Linked DNA regions of Homo sapiens. The protein of the gene in region 1 interacts with the protein of each later gene in a pairwise test. Each region holds a gene or a part of one and is shown on either strand. Other genes may lie near its edges.

Evidence for each region.
Region 2: the proteins of CNTRL (region 1) and MAP3K4 interact in a two-hybrid assay, tested with the Homo sapiens proteins (one large-scale study listed by BioGRID and IntAct).

Annotation. Positions count from the first base shown.
Region 1 is NC_000009.12:121,081,384-121,085,210, forward strand, and holds part of CNTRL (centriolin), read left to right. Parts: intron 1-3,827. UniProt on the Homo sapiens protein: Involved in cell cycle progression and cytokinesis. During the late steps of cytokinesis, anchors exocyst and SNARE complexes at the midbody, thereby allowing secretory vesicle-mediated abscission.
Region 2 is NC_000006.12:161,085,691-161,089,517, reverse strand, and holds part of MAP3K4 (mitogen-activated protein kinase kinase kinase 4), read right to left. Parts: intron 3,140-3,827; coding exon 3,040-3,139; intron 2,935-3,039; coding exon 2,851-2,934; intron 1,831-2,850; coding exon 1,564-1,830; intron 197-1,563; coding exon 47-196; intron 1-46. UniProt on the Homo sapiens protein: Component of a protein kinase signal transduction cascade. Activates the CSBP2, P38 and JNK MAPK pathways, but not the ERK pathway. Specifically phosphorylates and activates MAP2K4 and MAP2K6.

The DNA.
Region 1 (3,827 bases):
GTCCTCTTATTCAGTTCAATTCTGACACTGTCTGCCTGAAGATAGCATCAGATCCCACAGGTTAAGGACTCAGTCCCACAAGAGTGCCACCAACTTCAGATGCCCATTACAAGTAGTAGATTGCCACCTATACTTCTGACCACCAAGCTATAAATTGGGACTCCCACTGCCCCCTCCTTGGGTTCAATTAATTTGCTTGAGTGGGTCACAGAACTCAGAGAAATACTACTTACATTTTCCCATTTATTATAAAGGATATTACAAAATAAACAGCCAGAGGAAGAGTTGCATAGGGCAAGGTACGTGGAAAGGGGTATGAAGTTTTCATGCTCTCGCCAGCATGCCATCTTCCAGACACCTCCACATGTTCAGCTAATTGGAAGTTCTCTGGACCCTGTCCTTTTGGGGTTTTATGGAGGCTTACTTATGTAGGCGTGATTGCTCACATCATTGGCTACTGGTTATCAAATCAATTTTAGCTGCTCTCCCCTCCTTAAAGGTTGTGGGGTTGGGCTTAAAGTCCCAACCCTCTAAACATGCCTTAGTCTTTCTGGTGACTGGCCCCCATCCCAAAGCTGTCTGGGTGTCACCAGTCATCTTATTAGTAAACGAAAGACACTCTTATCACTGTGGAGAACCCAAAGGTTTTAAGAGCTATGTGATAGGAAACAGGAGGAACATCAAATATATAGGTTAAAAGAGAAATTATCAACACATTAAATTTAACAGTTTAATTGAACAAAGAATAGTTCACAAATTGGGCAGCCCTCAGAACCAGAAGAGATTCAGAGAGATCCATTCTGCAATGTAGGCAGGCAGCATTTATGGATAGAAAAGGGAAGTGAGGTACAGAAATAGCTTGATTGGTTATAGCTCTGTGTTTACCTTATTTGAACATGGTACGATCACTTGACTGCCTGTGATTGAAGCTCAGCTGCTATGATTGGCTGAGACTCAGCTATTACAAAAACATACTCCTAAGTTAGGCTTTCAGTTAGTTTACCTTCTAAGTTAGGTTGCAGTTCATTATGTAGAGACTTAAAGTACAGAGGCACTTTCAGGCAAAATTTAGTTTAATTTAACATACAGTCATGTGTCCCTTAATGACAGAATTTGCTCTGTAAGATGCGTTGTTAGACAATTTCATCATTGTACAAACATCATAGAATGTACTTACACAAACCTAGATGGTATAGGATAGCCTGTTGCTCCTAGACTACAAACCTGTACAGCATGTTACTGTACTGAATACTTTAGGCAGTTGTAGCACCATGGTAAATATTTGTGCATCTAAACATAGAAAAGGGGCTGGGTGTGGTGGCTCACACTTGTAATCCCAGCACTTTGGGAGGCCAAGGCACGTGGATCACAAGGTCAGGAGTTCGAGACCAGCCTGGCCAATATGGTGAAACCCCGTCTCTACTAAAAATACCAAAATTAGCCAGGCGTGGTGGCACGTGCCTGTAGTCCCAGCTACTCAGGAGGCTGAGGCAGGAGAATCGCTTGAACCCAGGAGGTGGAGGTTTCAGTGAGCCGAGATCGTGCCACTGCACACCAGCCTGGGCGACAGAGGGAGACTCCCTCTCAAAAAAAAAAAAAAAAATAGAAAAAGTACAATAAAAATATGGTATAAAATGTAAAAAAAGTATACCTGTATAGAGCACTTACCAGATGAATGGAGCTTGCAGGACTGGAAGTTTCTTTCCCAGTTAGTCGGTGAGTGAATGTGAAGGTGTAGGACATTACGGTACACTACTGTAGACTTTATAAACACTGTACACTTAGGCTACACTAAATTTATTAAACATTTTTTCTCTCTTCAATAGTAAATTAGCCTTAGCTTGCTGTAATGTTTTTACTTTATAAACTTTAAACTTTTTAAAAACTTTTTGACTGTTGTAGTAAAACTTAGCTTAAAACAAACACATTGTACAGTTGTACAAAATTAATTTCTTTATAACCTTATTCTATAAGCTTTTTTCTATTTTAAAAACTTTTTTACTTTTTAAATGTTTTCTTAAAAACTGAGACGCAAACACACACATTAGCCTAGGCCTGTAAGGGTCAGGATCATCAGTATGACTGCCTTTCATATCTTGTTCCACTGGAAGGTCTTCAAGGGCAATAACATGCATGGAGCTGTCATTTCTTATGATAACAGTGTTATGTTCTGGAATACCTCTTGAAGGACCTACCTGCCTGAGTCTGTTTTATAGTTAACTATTTTTTAAAAAATAAATAGAAGGAGTACACTCTAACAATGAAAAGTATGGTATAGTAAATACATAAGCCAGTAACACGGACATTTATTACCAAGTACTATGTACTCTACATAATTGTATGTGCCAGGCTTGTGTACACCTTGTAGCACAGTAGGTTTGTTTACACCAACATCACTACAAACATGTGAGTAATGTGTAGCACTATGACATTATGACATATATGATGTTACTAAGTTATAGGAATTTTTCAGCTTTATTATAATCTTACGGGACCACTGTCATGTATGTGGTCCGTTGTTGACCAAAACATTGTTATGTGATGCGTGACTGTATGTATTTCACAATATCACATATATGAAGATGTTTGTCATTCCACTATCCCTTTCTAATATCAATTTATATAGCATTAAGACTTGAGCTACTCTAAATCCTTGGATTAAAAACTACTTTAACCTAATATCTTATTTCATTAAATTTTTTTTCTAAAAAATAATTTCTGTTTTCACATTTTCAGCAGTGACTATAGGGGAAATTAAGGTACTAAGCAAAGATAGCATCATTATTAATGTAGCCTTGCTCGAGATCTATACATCTTATAATATTTTTTGTCCAAAAGTTTGTAAAGTTTATAATTTTTGTACTGTTTTTAGACTAAATGTACTTATAAGAACAACTGTGTATCATGAAAATCATTTTTGCATACACCTAACCTTGCAAATGTAGGACTCTTGATGTTAAGGACTAGTATTGCTCATGCAGACATTTTTTGTTGAGATACTAACTAGTACATTTTACATTTTATGTTATTTATGATTAACTCATTCAATAAATGTTAATTATTTACCATTTGCTAGGCTCTGTTCGAGGCCTACAGTGTGCTATATACTGTACGCACACTGTAGGCACAGCACACTGTATGCCTAGGATAGAAGAGGATGTCATTTTTTTTTTTTTTGTGAGATGGAGTCTCGCTTTGTCACCCAGGCTGGAGTGCAGTGGCGCGATCTTGGCTCACTGCAAGCTCCGCCTCCCAGGTTCAAGCTATTCTTCTGCCTTGACCTCCTGAGCACCTGGGATTCCTGGCGCTTGCCACCACGCCTGGCTAATGTTTTGTATTTTTAGTAGAGACGGGGTTTCACCATGTTAGCCAGGATGGTCTCGATCTCCTGACCTCGTGATCTGCCCGCCTCAGCCTCTCAAAGTGCTGGGATTACAGGCATGAGCCACTATGCCCGGCTGAGGATGTAATTTTTAAGGACTAATCAAGTCACAGTGCTAAACCATTCTGAGCCTTAATGGTCATGAACTTTACCTTTCTTTCATATAGGAAAAGAAATATTTTTATATGAAAACATTTAAAGGAATTTGACCAAGGTCTCTTTCATTAACAAATGCTTTAGTTCCTTCTGGAAGATCTATACTTCAATAAAATTGATTTTGTAAATAAGAATAGTAGACACTGAAGTTTGAAGTGATCAGATGTTTTTCATATAGCATGAGACAAATATGAATGGATTTCAGAAACGATATTTAACAAAAAAGGCAGATTTAAAAGATATTTTATGGTTTCATTTCTCTAAAGTTCAAAAATAGTTCAAAAATCTC
Region 2 (3,827 bases), on another chromosome or scaffold:
CATCAAAAAGGAAAAATCTCAGCTAATGTAGAGGACAGTGTAATACCTTCAGCTGCTGCAAAGCTTTGGCGATGACCGGCTGACTGGATGTCTGCTCCTGGCACAGAGTCATAAGTCCCTCAATGGACTGCTGGAAAGCTTTTCTCTGAATTGTGAGATGCGCAGACTGCATGACAACTAGTAAAAGATTATCCACCTGGGAGGAAAATCAAGCACAGGACATAAAAACCAACCCAGTTACTAGTTGTTATTCTAGTTCAACACCAGTCCAAAAACAATGCCAATCTCAGGGATACCAGGCCAACAACCATCTAATCAGAAAGTCATTTTTAAGCAAAGCTTCTCCTACACAGCAACACGCTTCAGTGGGCATTGACAGCTGGGATATTCAGCACCACGGAGAAGAACCCTTTGGGACTGCAGGCATGACATCTTTGAGATATCCTAGAACTTCAAGTAGTTCAGTACTGCCAGTGCAGAGTGTGTGTGAGTGTGTGTGTGTATGTGTGCATGTGTGTGTGTATTGGAGCAGCATATGAAGAAGGAAAATGTAGGAATAAGACAGAAATAAGATGAGGGGCCTTATATAAAACATTAAGAAATCAAGACTTTATTACTTTTGTTCTTAAGAGATGAAGAATCTTTGCAGTATTTTAAGTAGATCTGTGATGCAATCAGATGTATTATAATGATCATTCTAGAAGCACAAAAACAAACACAGAATTGGAGAGACAGAAGGTGAGGTTTGAAGCAGGGAAACTCAAAGTCAGAAACTGCAATAGTTCAGGAGAGGGATGGTAAAGTGCTGACTACAGCAGCTGCTCTGGGGATGCAGGGAAAGGATCATTTACTGGAAATGCTTCTGGCTTTCCAGGGCAAGGTATTAACTGGAAAGATGGGAGGCTGAATTTATATTAGCTGTCACACTTCTGGTTTAAACATGTGAGTGAACGCGGAACCATTCACTGAGACGGAATATAAAAGCAGAGTTGTTGGGGTGAGGGATACAGCAGGCCAGTGTATACTCAGTTCTGGTGAGGCTGAGCTCAAGGTGCATATGAACACTCACCATGACTGTTCCTAAGCTGAACACAGATAAATGAGAAAGCTTCTCATAGTTTATAACTAATGAGTTATAGAAACTGTCACGAGGTCCCTGTTAGGTAGGGAGGGGATAGCCTTCACTACAAAAAATTAAAATTAAATAACCAGTAAACCTGAGTACTTGGAGAACTGGGATTTCTAGAACTACAAATTATATTAGTGACATAACTCCTTTTAGATCATAGCTCCACAGATCTAACTACATGACTGAACTAAGAAAAGATATAAACCAGATAGATGGTTTATTTCAAGTATTCCAGTATAATTTAACTTAACAGAATGATATATTGTACAAATTATGCTGCAAAATGACCTATTAACACATTGAGGCATATTTTTGGGAAGTATATACTTGTGATTACTAGGGTAGTCAAACCCCTCATTCATGAGCAGCTAACAGTTCATTCTTACTAAAAGTCCTTGAAGTAACACTGCTGCAAAGATGGAGATGAGCTGTACCTGCATGCTTCTCAGGGTGTCAACAGTCTCCACCTGAGGCACGACTTTGACAGGCTGTGCCTCCCAGGTGCCCCAGCTGTCCTCTGAATCACGGGCTCGATCACCGTGCTTGGTCAGAAGCAGATAGGCATCGATGAGTACGTCATCTGAATCTTTTGAACAGTCCTTTCCTGCAGCTGCATTGAGTAACTGCAAAATAATACTCTTCTCCTCAGCAAGAGTGTCTGGAACAAACATTTGCAAGTTTTCTAACCCAGGAATTTGCACCTGCAAAAGACATAATCCAAAATCTTAAGGAACACTGTACATTAGAGAAATAGGTTATTTAAAACAAACCTAGGAAAGGAGAGGCAGGTTTGGGAAAGGGAAAGTGGGAAGGGCATGAATTGGAGCAGTGAGGGAACTGCAGGTAGCCGGCTTCAGTGTGACTGAAGGAGGCAGGAGGAGGAGAGTCTGTGAACGCACTGGAGGAGAGGCCTTACAGAGTCTCCCCGATTATTGGACATCCTCCTCACTGCTTTATTTTCAACAACAAAGAAAATACTCGACGGGGAGGCAAGGCAGCCTGAAAGAACCTCAACCACTGCTAGTTTGTGATGCTTACAAAAAGTCACCTGGCTTGGGAAAAAGGCAAAAATTGTTAATACAGATTCTCTAATTATTCCAGGGCAGGGAGCCAGGGGTTCATCACAAGAAGGCTCCTTGAGATCAGTTTCTCAAAGGGTACACATGTGGTGGCACGCTGCAGGTCATCCCTCCCACTCTCAGTATGGGAGCGGGATACAACTGTGGGCTTGGGATAAAATGTCCAGTGATGACATCACATACGGATTCTAACTGTGCTAAATCTCCAACAACTTAAAGTGGAGTAAAGTTGCTGACTCAAAAAGTGGCTCTAGTGATGACCAGGATCTTGATGTCAAAGATTCACTGTAAAACCTTTGAACTGCATCAGGAAATATAAGGGTGAAAAACAAAACCATAATTTAAAATGAATATTATCTCCTTATACACATTATTTTAAATATGTGTAACTAAATTAATAAACAGCATGAGTAAACTTTTTATTATTTATCTACACTCTGAAGACAAGTTAGTAAGTCAAGTATGAAAAAGACTGTTTCATTATTCCACTGGTGAATTACAGGACAGTCTTACAACTGGGGTTGTGGTACAGCCTTCAGAGCCTGTAATATTTACTATCTGGACCTTCAAGAAAAAGTCTGCCTGTTTTAGAATAAAGAAGGAAAGGCAAAATGTTTCAATCACAACATTTGAAGTACTTACCTTGACATACTGTTTTGATTTCAGAACATCCAGGAGGTCTCTAACTGGGGCTGAAAGCCTGAATTCTGCTGCTATTTCCAGGTCCTAGGATCACAGTTACAAAGAAACTTCTTTACGGTTAGCATTAAAAAAATAAGATAAAAGAAAAACAAGAAAAAAGGTACTAATTAATCAGGATTGCAAGCTCACCTTTCTCAACATTTTAGCAAATCCAAGTGCTTTGGAAGCCCTTTCTCTGGCTTCATGGAAGAGCTCCTTCAGGGCTCGACTGATCTCTATAACAGACCTCCTGCCAAGTGGATTCAAGTCCAGTTAGAACACATTAGGGAATATTCCAGAGGTGCAAGAGGGATTTAACAATAAAGATGAAGCAAATTCCAAATCACAGTAATAAATAAAGACTGAGGATTTTTTAAATGGGAACAAACTATTATTGAAGATGTAGTCAAAACATTCAGAAGCCTGCTCCTGACAGTTTTGTAGAAAATATTCATATCCTTTCAATGTAAGCAGGGCACATTTAATAACCTTCAAATAATAGGAAGCTCAATTTTCTTAACATTTCATTATGATCATTTCTTGGAGTTTAAGGTTAAGTTCTTAACTCCTGGCTCGTAATCTAAAAAGAAATCTATACAGTGTGATCTGGGAAATATTTAACAACTGGGTGACCCTAAATTACTATCTTATGTAATGCATGCCGATTTCTGTGGTGTAAATACTCCCATCATAGCTAATTTCAAGGCAGCAGTATGATGTCCCTGAGCAATGAAATGGGAAGAGATGTGCATGATCAGCTCTCTCAAGCCGGGAGAAGCAGCTCCAGCACACCACTGCCCATGGCCCCCTGAACTGGAACCGCTCTCTAGTTCACCATCTTCATTCCTGCCTTCTCATGTTTCTTTGGAATCTACATGCTTGGGGTTATTTTGAACCCACCATGTTAGCTCTCAAAACTGTGAGACCTACAAACTTAT